Homo sapiens: one gene and its partners. The protein of the gene in region 3 purifies or fractionates together with the protein of the main gene of each other region. This does not show direct contact. Each region holds a gene or a part of one and is shown on either strand. Other genes may lie near its edges.

Region 1 (3,656 bases), on a different chromosome or scaffold from region 3:
GCTTCAGCCACACCCTTGGTTCCACTGGTCATATAGTCAGGGTGGACAGAGGCGGCGCTCTGGGAAGGGACTCTCCAGGGCAACTCGCACATCCTCCTTTCCCCTTGGCTGCACTGTTGCAGCTGCCCATTGGCATTGTGTCCATAGACGGGACCGCAGCCCGTTCAGTGGCCATGGTCCTTCCATCCCCCGTGAAAACAGCCCCAGAGTGGGACCCGGAGCCTCTGCCCTTCCCCAGAACCACCCTGCCAGCAAAGGGCAGAACAAGATGACATCAGCACAGGCCTCTCTGTGTTATAGCCCTGGGCACGAGCTCTCAAGACACACCCCAGGGTCCTAGAGGAGAGTGCCAGCCTCCCATGACAAAGAAGGCCAAAGTGTCCCTCCTCATCCTAGAAGATAATCTAATTTCTATTTGAAATGAGCAGTCCCAGCTGGGCGCGGTGACTCACGCCTGTAATCCCAGCACTTTGGAAGGCCGAGGTGGGCGTATCACCTGAGGTCAGCAGTTCGAGACCAGCCTGGTCAACGTGGCAAAACCCCATCTCTACTAAAAACACAAAAATTAGCCGGGCATGGTGGTACATGCCTGTAATCCCAGCTACTCAAGAGGCTGAGGCATGAGAATCGCTTGAACCCAGGAGGCAGAGGTTGCAGTGAGCCGAGATTGTGCCACTACACTCCAGCCTGGGCAACAGAATGAGACTCCATCTCAGAAAAAAAAAAAAAAAAAAAAAGAAATTTGCAGTCTGGGTCTCTAAAGGGTTGTGTCTTAGGGAGCCAGGGCTACAATTTGACTAGAGAGGAGGAAAGGAGAGTATGAAGAGATTTTCTCAGGCTTGTAGACAGGAAGCTTTAAAACATCTGAGCTTAGCAATAATAAATTTAAATCCACAGTCCCACATTGTGAGAAAGAAGATGTTTACATTGCACCATGGAGAGCAGGAGGAATATGTCTTAGTGGGAAGGGCCTCCCGTCTCTAGGAACGGGGCCGCTGAGGGAGGTATGGATGACTCCCCACCCAGAAAACATCCAGTGGAGTTGGGCATAAATCTGGGGTGTGCATGCACACTACACACTGCAACTGCCCACCTACAAGGGAAGACATGATGTGGATTCAAACACCAGATTTCTATTGACTTGAAAAGCTACGACGAGCCCGGTGCGGTGGCTCACGCCTATAATCCCAGCACTTTGGGAGGCAGAGGTGGGTGGATCACCTGAGGTGAGACCAGCCTGGCCAACATGATGAAATCCCATCTCTACTAAAAATACAAAAATTAGCTGGGCGTGGTGGCATGTGCCTGTAGTCGCAGCTACTCAGGAGGCTGAGGCGGGAGAATCACTTGAACCTGGGAGGCAGAGGTTGCAGTATGCCAAGATTGCGCCACTGCACTCCAGCCTGGGTGACAGAGCGAGACTCTGTCTCAAAACAAACAACAAAAAAAGCAATGATGAGTTCACAAATAGTATGATTTTGCTGATCATTTCATTTAGAGTTTTAATAAATCAGTACACTGTATTATCATACTACATTCAATCAACTTAGGTTTAAAAGACATTAAACTACACACCTGTAATCCCAGCACTTTGGGAGGCTGAGGCGGGTGGATCACCTGAGGTCAGGAGTTCAAGACCGGCCTGATCAACATGGAGAAACCCCGTCTCTACTAAAAATTAGCCGGGCATGGTGGCACACCCCTGTAATCCCAACTACTCAGGAGGCTGAGGCAGGAGAATGGCTTGAACTCAGGAGGCGGAGGTTGCGGTGAGCTGCGATCGCACCATTACACTCCAGCCTGGGCAACAAGAGTGAAACTCCACCTCAAAAAAAAAAGAACAAAAACAAACAAACAAACAAAAAAAACTAAAATCCTTGAATAGGTTTTGAATTAATAAATTCATAATTAATAAAACTGCCTGATTAACTTTATGGTATTTTTAGCCTCAGTCGAGGTTCTTCTCCTATGACCCATGTATTGTGTTGTTTCTGAACTTGGAGACTAACACACAGCTTAGACTGGGAGTGTCAGCAAGGGACTGGCACCTGAAGCTGTGAAGCTCAGTTCCGAGGAGAGGGCTTGGCAGGAGCCACCAGCTGCTTAGCCTGCTCAGAGGTGTCACTGGAAACTTGGATGTGCATTGGGTAAGCTGTGAAGGGTTACTTTTCTTTTCTTTTTTTTTTTTTTTTGAGATGGAGTTTCACTCTTGTCGCCCAGGCTGGAGTGCAATGGCACGATTTCAGCTCACTGCAACCGCCGCCTCCCAGGTTCAAGCAATTCTCCTGCCTCAGCCTCCCAAGTAGCTGGGATTACAGGCACCTGCCACCATGACTGGCTAATTTTGCATTTTTAGTAGAGAGGGGGTTTTTCCATGTTGGCCAGGCTGGTCTCAAACTCCCAACCTCAGGTGATCCGCCTGTCTCGGCCTCCCAAAATGCTGGGATTATAGGCGTGAGCCACCGCGCCTGGCCTGAAGGGTTACTTTTCTAGCAGAGCTCATAAGAGCCACTATTTCTTCCCTCAGGCACAATGCCTGGCTTAAGGATTGAAGAGGAAGGGCTCTTAAGACCCGGGTTTCTGATTTTTCTCCAAGTCAGTAGTCCCCAAACTTCTCTCTACCGGGACCTCCTCTGGAATCACATTAATCCGGGCCCCTCTCCAAGTCAGGCTGCTTTGCCTTTCCCAGTTACTCAACCAGGCTGCTTCTCAACTCCTTGGGAGTGCAGCTCCCCAAATGATCCCTCCTGAGACATTCCTCCTTTCTGCAAGTCCTCAGAGGACGAGACTTTCCGTCTGCATTTGGAGGGAAGGAGAAGAGAGACAGACCTCCTTTCTTCCTGAACAAAGATGAAGCACCAAGCTCTGGGAAAAGCTAAGCCAAGAGGCCCAACCTGGCTGGAAGATCATACAGTTGCATTTTTCGTGTGTACTAGAAATACAGAGCACTCATTAAATTAACCGAGTGAAAACCACTCCTTAGGCAATGATTAAGCTGAGAGTCAGAGGGATGGGTGGGAGGCCAGCTGTCCCATCTGAGCTGCACTTGATCACTAGGGAATTTATCATTTCTAATGCCTTTCACAAAGTCCCCTGTGATGCCCCCATTGCAGCCCCCGGGGAACGGTGAGGCAACCTGCTTCTTATGGCAGAAATATGGGACTCAGGACAGAGCAGGGGTTGTCTGGAAACTGAGGGAGAAAAACCAATATGGGGCATTTATAGCGTGAGCTCAGGCTGGGCGTGGTGGCTCACATTTATGATCCCAGTGCTTTGGGAGTCCGAGGCTGAAGGACTGCTTGAGCCCAGGAGTTCAAGACCAGCTTGGGCGACATAGAGAGACCCTCTCTGTACAAAAAAATTAGCCGGGTATAGTGGTGTGTGCTGTAGTCCCAGCTACTTGAGAGGCTGAGGCCAGGATTGTGTAAAGCCCAGGAGTTTGAGGCTGCAGTGAACTATGATGGTGCCACTATACTGCAGCCTGGGCAATGGAGAAAAAGGCAAAAAAAAAAAAAATGTCTATGGGCCTCCAGAAACAGACATAACATTTTTCTGGAGGCAGGTCGTACTGATTCCAAGGAATTCCCTAAAAAGGAATTTCCCTAAAAACGTTAAGATGTATTAGTCTAGGATGACAGGATATAGCACTTAAAACT
Region 2 (3,656 bases), on a different chromosome or scaffold from region 3:
GGAGTCAACAACTTAAAATGAAACAGTAAATTATAAGGGATGAATGCTTACCTACAGACTTTCAGAATTAGGTAAAGCAAATCTTTAAGCAGTACAAAGAATCAGGTACTCACAATTATGTAATTATAAACCTTACATACACATCAAATACCTTTACAATGTGATATATTTGCACCTATGTCCAGTTCTAGGTGAGGGGAGAAAATGACTGGTGTAATCACAAGCACTAGAGAGATACAGAAAACCATGCTGTACTCAAAGAGCCACTTCCAGCTCTACCTAAGCTAAAAGAAACCAGCTGTTTGGCAATTCAGTAATCTTGAAAGTTCTCTACCTATGTCCACAAGTTTCTTTTCCTTATTTGAGATAGGGTCTCCCTGTCGCCCAGGCTGGAGTGCTATGGCACGATCACAGCTCACTGCAGCCTTGAACTCTTGGGCTCAAGTGATCCTCTTGCCTCAGCCTCCCAAGTAGCTGGGACTATAGGTGTGTGCCAAAATGCCTGGCTTTTTTAAACTTTATTTTTTGTAGAGATGGGGTCCCGCTATTTCACCCAGACTGGTCTTGAACTCATGGGTTCAAACAATCTTCCCGCCTTGGCCTCCCAAAGTGTTGGGCTTACAAGGGATGAGCCACAGTGCCTGGCCTATACATATTTTCAGTAATAAAAGTATTTGTGGTTGATTAGTCCCCAAGAAGCTTTTCTTCCCATTTATAATTATAGAGACAATTATAATACAACTTTAATTATGCCCAGATCTAAAGAATGTGAATTCATGGCAATAAGATCACTTTTGTGCTTTATTTTTCATGGAACCCAAATATTTAAAATGTACTCTTAGTATTTTCATTCAGGTTTTATATTACTTAACTGTTGGGGTGACTAACTGTCATGGTTTTCCCACGACTGAGGGGTCTTCTTAGGAAGTAGGACTTTCAGTGCTAAAACTGGGCGGGACAGACCCTATGGCTGTGACTTAGTACTTCCACCTTTACTTGAAAGATTTTGTAACATTCCTTAATTTCTACTAAATCTTAGTTTTGATTCCCAAATGTTTTTAAAGATTTAGCTAGTATTACAACTCACCACTGTTAGCAAGAGCTGTGTGCTACAACATAATGAAGAGTGTAAATTTTTCAAAGGTATTCACTTAGTCAATTTCTGTATCTATTTTTACTACTACACAACAGAGAAGTCAGACTTATTTCAAAGATTTCAAACTTGAAAATATAAATTACCTGAAAATTTCTACAAAATCCAATTATCTCCCAAGATCTGAAGAGAATTAATTTTATGGTAGAACTATATTTCAGTTAATTTGATTATCTACATGACTAGACAGGAATAAAGATAGGATTATTTCCAAACAACAAACATATCCTATTCATTTCTTATATTCTCATAACTTAGTACTCTATGTACTAAAAATGTATTAATCTAGATTTTCAGTCATTTAAGTATACAGTATATAAACCTACGCATCTATACACTTAAGATATCTTGTAAATCAATTGTCAAATGAATAACTGGTTTGCATCTGCTGAGCATACATTGCCTGGATAATAGAGTCAAAACTGTTGGGATTATCTAATAAATTATCAAAGATTTAAAAATTACAGGTAATTCTGAATTGGATACAATTTAAGAGAACAGTTAATTTCCTTTTAATTTTATAAAACAATTTATTTCCTTTTAAACTATGAAAATCCAAGAGAGATTTCTTGTTAAGAAAATCACGTATGCATAAATGCTGAACTAGTAGCTTCTATAGGAAATTATGTTGTTAAGTCAGATGGGAACCATAATGGCCTCATCCCTGAAGCAATCATTGTTAATATAAATCCCAAACATATTTCTATATGGTTCCAATTTACTCCAATGTGTTTCACCATCCTGTCAAAATTACTAGATATCAAATAAGCAAGATTTATATGCTCAAAACTGACAAAAATCAGCGTTCTAAATATATATGGCAATTGAGAGTAGCTAAATCTACGGAATCTTTTAAATTAAAAAATATTGCCCATTCTGATGAAACTGCTTATAATGACTACAAGTAAAGATGGTGGCCATTAAGTTTTATCGTGAGCACCTGAGGAACTGTTTGCATCCAATACAAAATGTTTCTTTCTTTTGAATTACTGACACTGGCAAATTAAAATGAAGTGGATACATATGGTTGAAACAATCTTCACATTTACTAATATCCTGAAATATCACTAAATCATAAAGACTAAAACTGTGGGTTATATATTATAAATGTTGCCTAATGCATTCCCAACTCTGTTGTTTGTTACAAATTTGTATACTATGGACAAAATTGGCCATTTATTCAAGAGTAACAGCTGGTTCCAACACTGTGCATCTTATCAAAAAAGAAGGACATTACAAAAAGGAAAAGGCACAATTAACCTTTAAAATGCTGAAAACAAAAGAATCTCATTCTTTGGGAAAACATTTAGCAGGAAATTTACAAGCAGATAATTTAACTACTGTTCCCGTTTTAACATTTTTATAAACTAACTAGATATCTCAATATAAAGGTTTACAACAATAAAAACGTTACACAATGCTGACATTATCTAAGAAAGAACAATAGGATCTGATACCTTAAAGGGATATCATATATTGTTAAAGGCAGTCAGCTGATTTTAAAAAGAAAAATATCATCATTAATGAACGGAGGCTGGGAAAAAAGTAGTGTTTCACCCTGTCAATCTAAGACAAAGTGTTATCCTGAGAAGATGAACAAAATATCATCAAGTACTTACAGTATATTTTAAATTATTAGCTAATCCATTTTGTTGATCTATAGTAACGCTTAGGAAAAAAGCTAGAAACAGGAAAACTCAAACTCTCTAGATTCTAAAAAATTATACCTCTCTACTGCATTCTATAATAACCTTACAGAAATTCTGATATTTAATCTTGAATATTAGAAGCACAGTCTCCATTTTTAAAGTAGCAGCTCAGTTCACTCTGACGGTATTTCACTGACGTAGCCTAAGGCTATAGGTAATGGAACATTACTCACTATGATAGCCAGATTTCTTCTGCATGGCGGTTACAGGGCAATCTTTATGAGCCAGAAGAAGCTGTTTCAGCTGTGCCACTTCATTTCTCAGCAGGGTGACTTCACTCTGGAGAAGAAACAACTTATGTACCTTACCACAGACTAAACATATTTTTTACTATTTAAAACAAGCAAGGATTAAAGTATAAAATTGGACATCACTGGCAGAACATTAAAAACAAAGAAAATATGCTGATTAAATATGTCTAATCAGCACAGGGCAGCTTTTATATTTTAGCATTTATTAAAAAGCTGTAACTTGAATAAAAATTTAAGATAATGCCACAGCTGGATAGCATATTTCAAAATTGTTTCCATTTCCCTGGGACTTCTTATATATTATTGGTGACCTGTTGAAAGTATTTTTATTTTATATATGTTGCATGCTCTTCTGATTATTTAAAAAGAAACATCAAGGGAGTCAGGATGAATTTTCACTGATTCCATTCACCTAAAAATGAAAAAAATCATCCTAGAAATTCAAATAAGCAAGTTTCCAGTTTCCTAGAAACCAAGAAAAGCTCCACAGGGGAAACCAAAATAACCAAAGAATCATGGATACCTAAAATTCACTGCAAGGCA
Region 3 (2,943 bases):
ATTGCAGTTTTGCCATTGAAAGTGATGGCAAAAATTGTAATTACTTTGGCACCAACCTAATAAAACCTGGAGTGTCCCAGGCAAACTAGGACAAGCTGGTCACTCACCTCTAGAGTTTCAGATTCAGCATCTCTGGAATCTGGAATCTGAGGCATGAGAATCTGCCTTTCTTCCAAGTTTTCAAGTGATGCTAATGTTGTTGGTCCGGAAACCACACTTTGAGAACCACTGCTCAAAATCTTTCCAAAATCTGAATCTTTAGGGTGGAGCCTAAACCCTGAGTTTTAAACAAGCTTTTTGGGTGATTCCAATGCATTTAAAAATTTGAGGCCCCGTGCCTTGGGTTCATGAGGAGTTAATTACCTTTGAATCCTCTCCTGACCTTGGTTAGCTGTAAGCACCTTAGAAGGAAGAGAGTTGCAACCAATTGAGAGCCAGGCCTAAGGATGGGCCAGAGGAGGAAGCATGGGGAAGGGGAGCAAAGGTGTCGTCTGAGCATGACCCTGGGGTTGACAATGATCTGCAGACCCATGCAGGGATAGACGAGGTGGGGAGATGGGGGAGGCCGGTCCAGAGTCTGGGTTCACAGCCTCTGACCACGTTCCCCGCATCTCTCTGCTCTTCCTACCAGTTCAAAGTGTCAAGAACAAGCCTCTCTTCTTTGCCGACAAACTTTACAAATCCATGAAGGTAAGAAAACATGCTGGCGTTCCTTTCCCTTCAAGCACTGACTTACATACACACACAAACACACAGATGTGCACCATCCCCCAGATCAGGATTCCTGGCAGCTGTTTCTTCCCATTTGACATTTATTAGCATCTGCCCTTGTCTGGCTCTAGGATGGTATTTCCCAGTTGGGGGTGATTTCCCCCGCCTTCCCCCGCCCCGGAGGATATTTGGCAATATCCAGACACATTTTTGGTCATCACAACTTGGAGATTGTTGCTACCAGCATCTGGTGGGGACAGAACAGGGATGCTGTTAAACAACCTCAGTGCAAAGGATAAGCTTGCGCAACAAAGAATTATCCAGCCCCAAATGCCAAGGTTGAGAAATGTGCTCTGGAGGCACACAGGGCTGGGTAGGACACAGTCTCTGCCCTCTCAGAGCTCACAATCTATCCGGGGACACAGGGTCTCCTAGGACAAATAGTCATCAAAGGTCACAAGCGCTCCCCTCTGAGTCTAGTCCTGCCCTTCTGGGAGAGCCCAAGCCACACTGGCCACCCTCTCAGCCACTGGAGTCTCAACTGCAGATAGCCTGGGCAGGTGGGAGGGTAGGAAGGAACCTGAGACCCTCACCCTACAGTCTCCAAATGTGACAGCCATTCATTGAGCACTCACGATGTGTCAAGCCTGTGCCAAGGGCTTCATCTCTCTGACCACAGCTGACCCTCATGGCAGTCCTGTGAAATTGTGGTAGCATCCTCATTTGATAGAGGAGGAAACTCAGGCCTAGGTAGGGTAAAACGTTGCCCACATTTACATAGCTCCTAAGAGGCAGAGCTGGGACTCGAACCTAGCTCTGACTCCTAGGCTGGTGCTTGTCGCTCCCTGGGGGCAGAGGCAGCTCTGGCTGCCCACACATTCCATGCCCTGTGCCTGCTCCTTGGGCCCGGTGGTAGTTTCCTAGGGCTGGTGTAACACATTCCAGAAATTGGGTGACAAAAGAAATTTATTCTCATAGTTCTGGAGGCCAAAAGCCCAAAATCAAGGTGTCGCCTGGGTTGGGTCCTCCTGGAGGCTCTGGGGGAGAAGCACTCCCCTGCCTCTCCTAGCTTCTGGTGGTTGCCAGAAGTCCTTGGTGTTTCCTGGCTGTGAATGCATCACTCCGGTCTCTGCCTCTGTCCTCACCTAGCCACTTTTCTGTGTGTATGTCTGTGCCCTCCCTCTTCTAAAGATATTGGTTATTGGTTTAGGCTTCAATCTAATTCAGTATGCCTTCATCTTAACTAATTACATGTGCAAATACCTTATTTCCAAATTACATCATGTTCTGAGTTTCCAGGTGGACATGGGGACACTATTCAACCCACACACATCTTTTTTGCGTGTCAGTCTGGCCAGTCCTGGGCACAGAGGGATTTTGGTCAGGACTGTTTGCAGAAGACAGAGGTGGAACATCCGCCCTGTTTTTGGAAGGAACAAGGGAGAAAGGCAGATGGGATACCACTGTTTCTTGCCTGACTGGGCTCTATCTCTCCTTCCGCCTGTGTCTCCCTCCTGCCTGGCTCCACCAGGGTGCTGGCACAGATGAGAAGACTCTGACCAGGATCATGGTATCCCGCAGTGAGATTGACCTGCTCAACATCCGGAGGGAATTCATTGAGAAATATGACAAGTCTCTCCACCAAGCCATTGAGGTAAGGGGAGGGGCTAGAGGTTAGCAGGAAGCGGGTGAGTGTCAGATCCCTAATATAAGATTAGAAGTCTTTATTCCCATGGACTTTTTTCCAGTGGGTTACCGCTTAGAACAGCCAGGATATTGAAATGAAAGGGGGTCTGTATTGCATTGTTTATACCGAAATCAATTCCAAAAGAATCAAAGGTTTATAATTAAAGATTTCCAAATAAAACAAGAGCCCATTTTTTGCTTTTTTTAAAGCAATGTTATGGAAGTATAACTTACATATCATGGGCAGGCATGGTGGCTCACACCTGTAATCACAGCACGTTGGAAGGCCAAGGCAGGTGGATCACTTGAGGTCAGGAGTTCAAGACCAGCCTGGCCAACATGGTGAAACCCTGTCTCTACTAAAAATACAAAAATTAGCTGGGTGTGTTGGCTCATGCCTGTAATCCCAGCTACTCAGGAGGCTGAGGCAAGAGAATCGCTTGAACCCAGGAGGTAGAGGTTGCAGTGAGCTGAGATCACGCCACTGCACTCCAGCCTGGGCAACAGAGCAAGACTCCATCTCAAAAACAGACAAACAAACAAACG

What was found.
Region 1: the proteins of ANXA6 (region 3) and CD9 purify together in Homo sapiens (co-immunoprecipitation; one study listed by IntAct). This does not show direct contact.
Region 2: the proteins of ANXA6 (region 3) and ATF2 purify together in Homo sapiens (co-immunoprecipitation; one large-scale study listed by IntAct). This does not show direct contact.

The regions. Positions count from the first base shown.
Region 1 is NC_000012.12:6,206,761-6,210,416, reverse strand, and holds part of CD9 (CD9 antigen), read right to left. Parts: intron 1-3,656. UniProt on the Homo sapiens protein: Integral membrane protein associated with integrins, which regulates different processes, such as sperm-egg fusion, platelet activation and aggregation, and cell adhesion.
Region 2 is NC_000002.12:175,077,625-175,081,280, forward strand, and holds part of ATF2 (cyclic AMP-dependent transcription factor ATF-2), read right to left. Parts: intron 3,142-3,656; coding exon 3,036-3,141; intron 1-3,035. UniProt on the Homo sapiens protein: Transcriptional activator which regulates the transcription of various genes, including those involved in anti-apoptosis, cell growth, and DNA damage response.
Region 3 is NC_000005.10:151,102,992-151,105,934, reverse strand, and holds part of ANXA6 (annexin A6), read left to right. Parts: intron 1-631; coding exon 632-690; intron 691-2,242; coding exon 2,243-2,365; intron 2,366-2,943. UniProt on the Homo sapiens protein: May associate with CD21. May regulate the release of Ca(2+) from intracellular stores.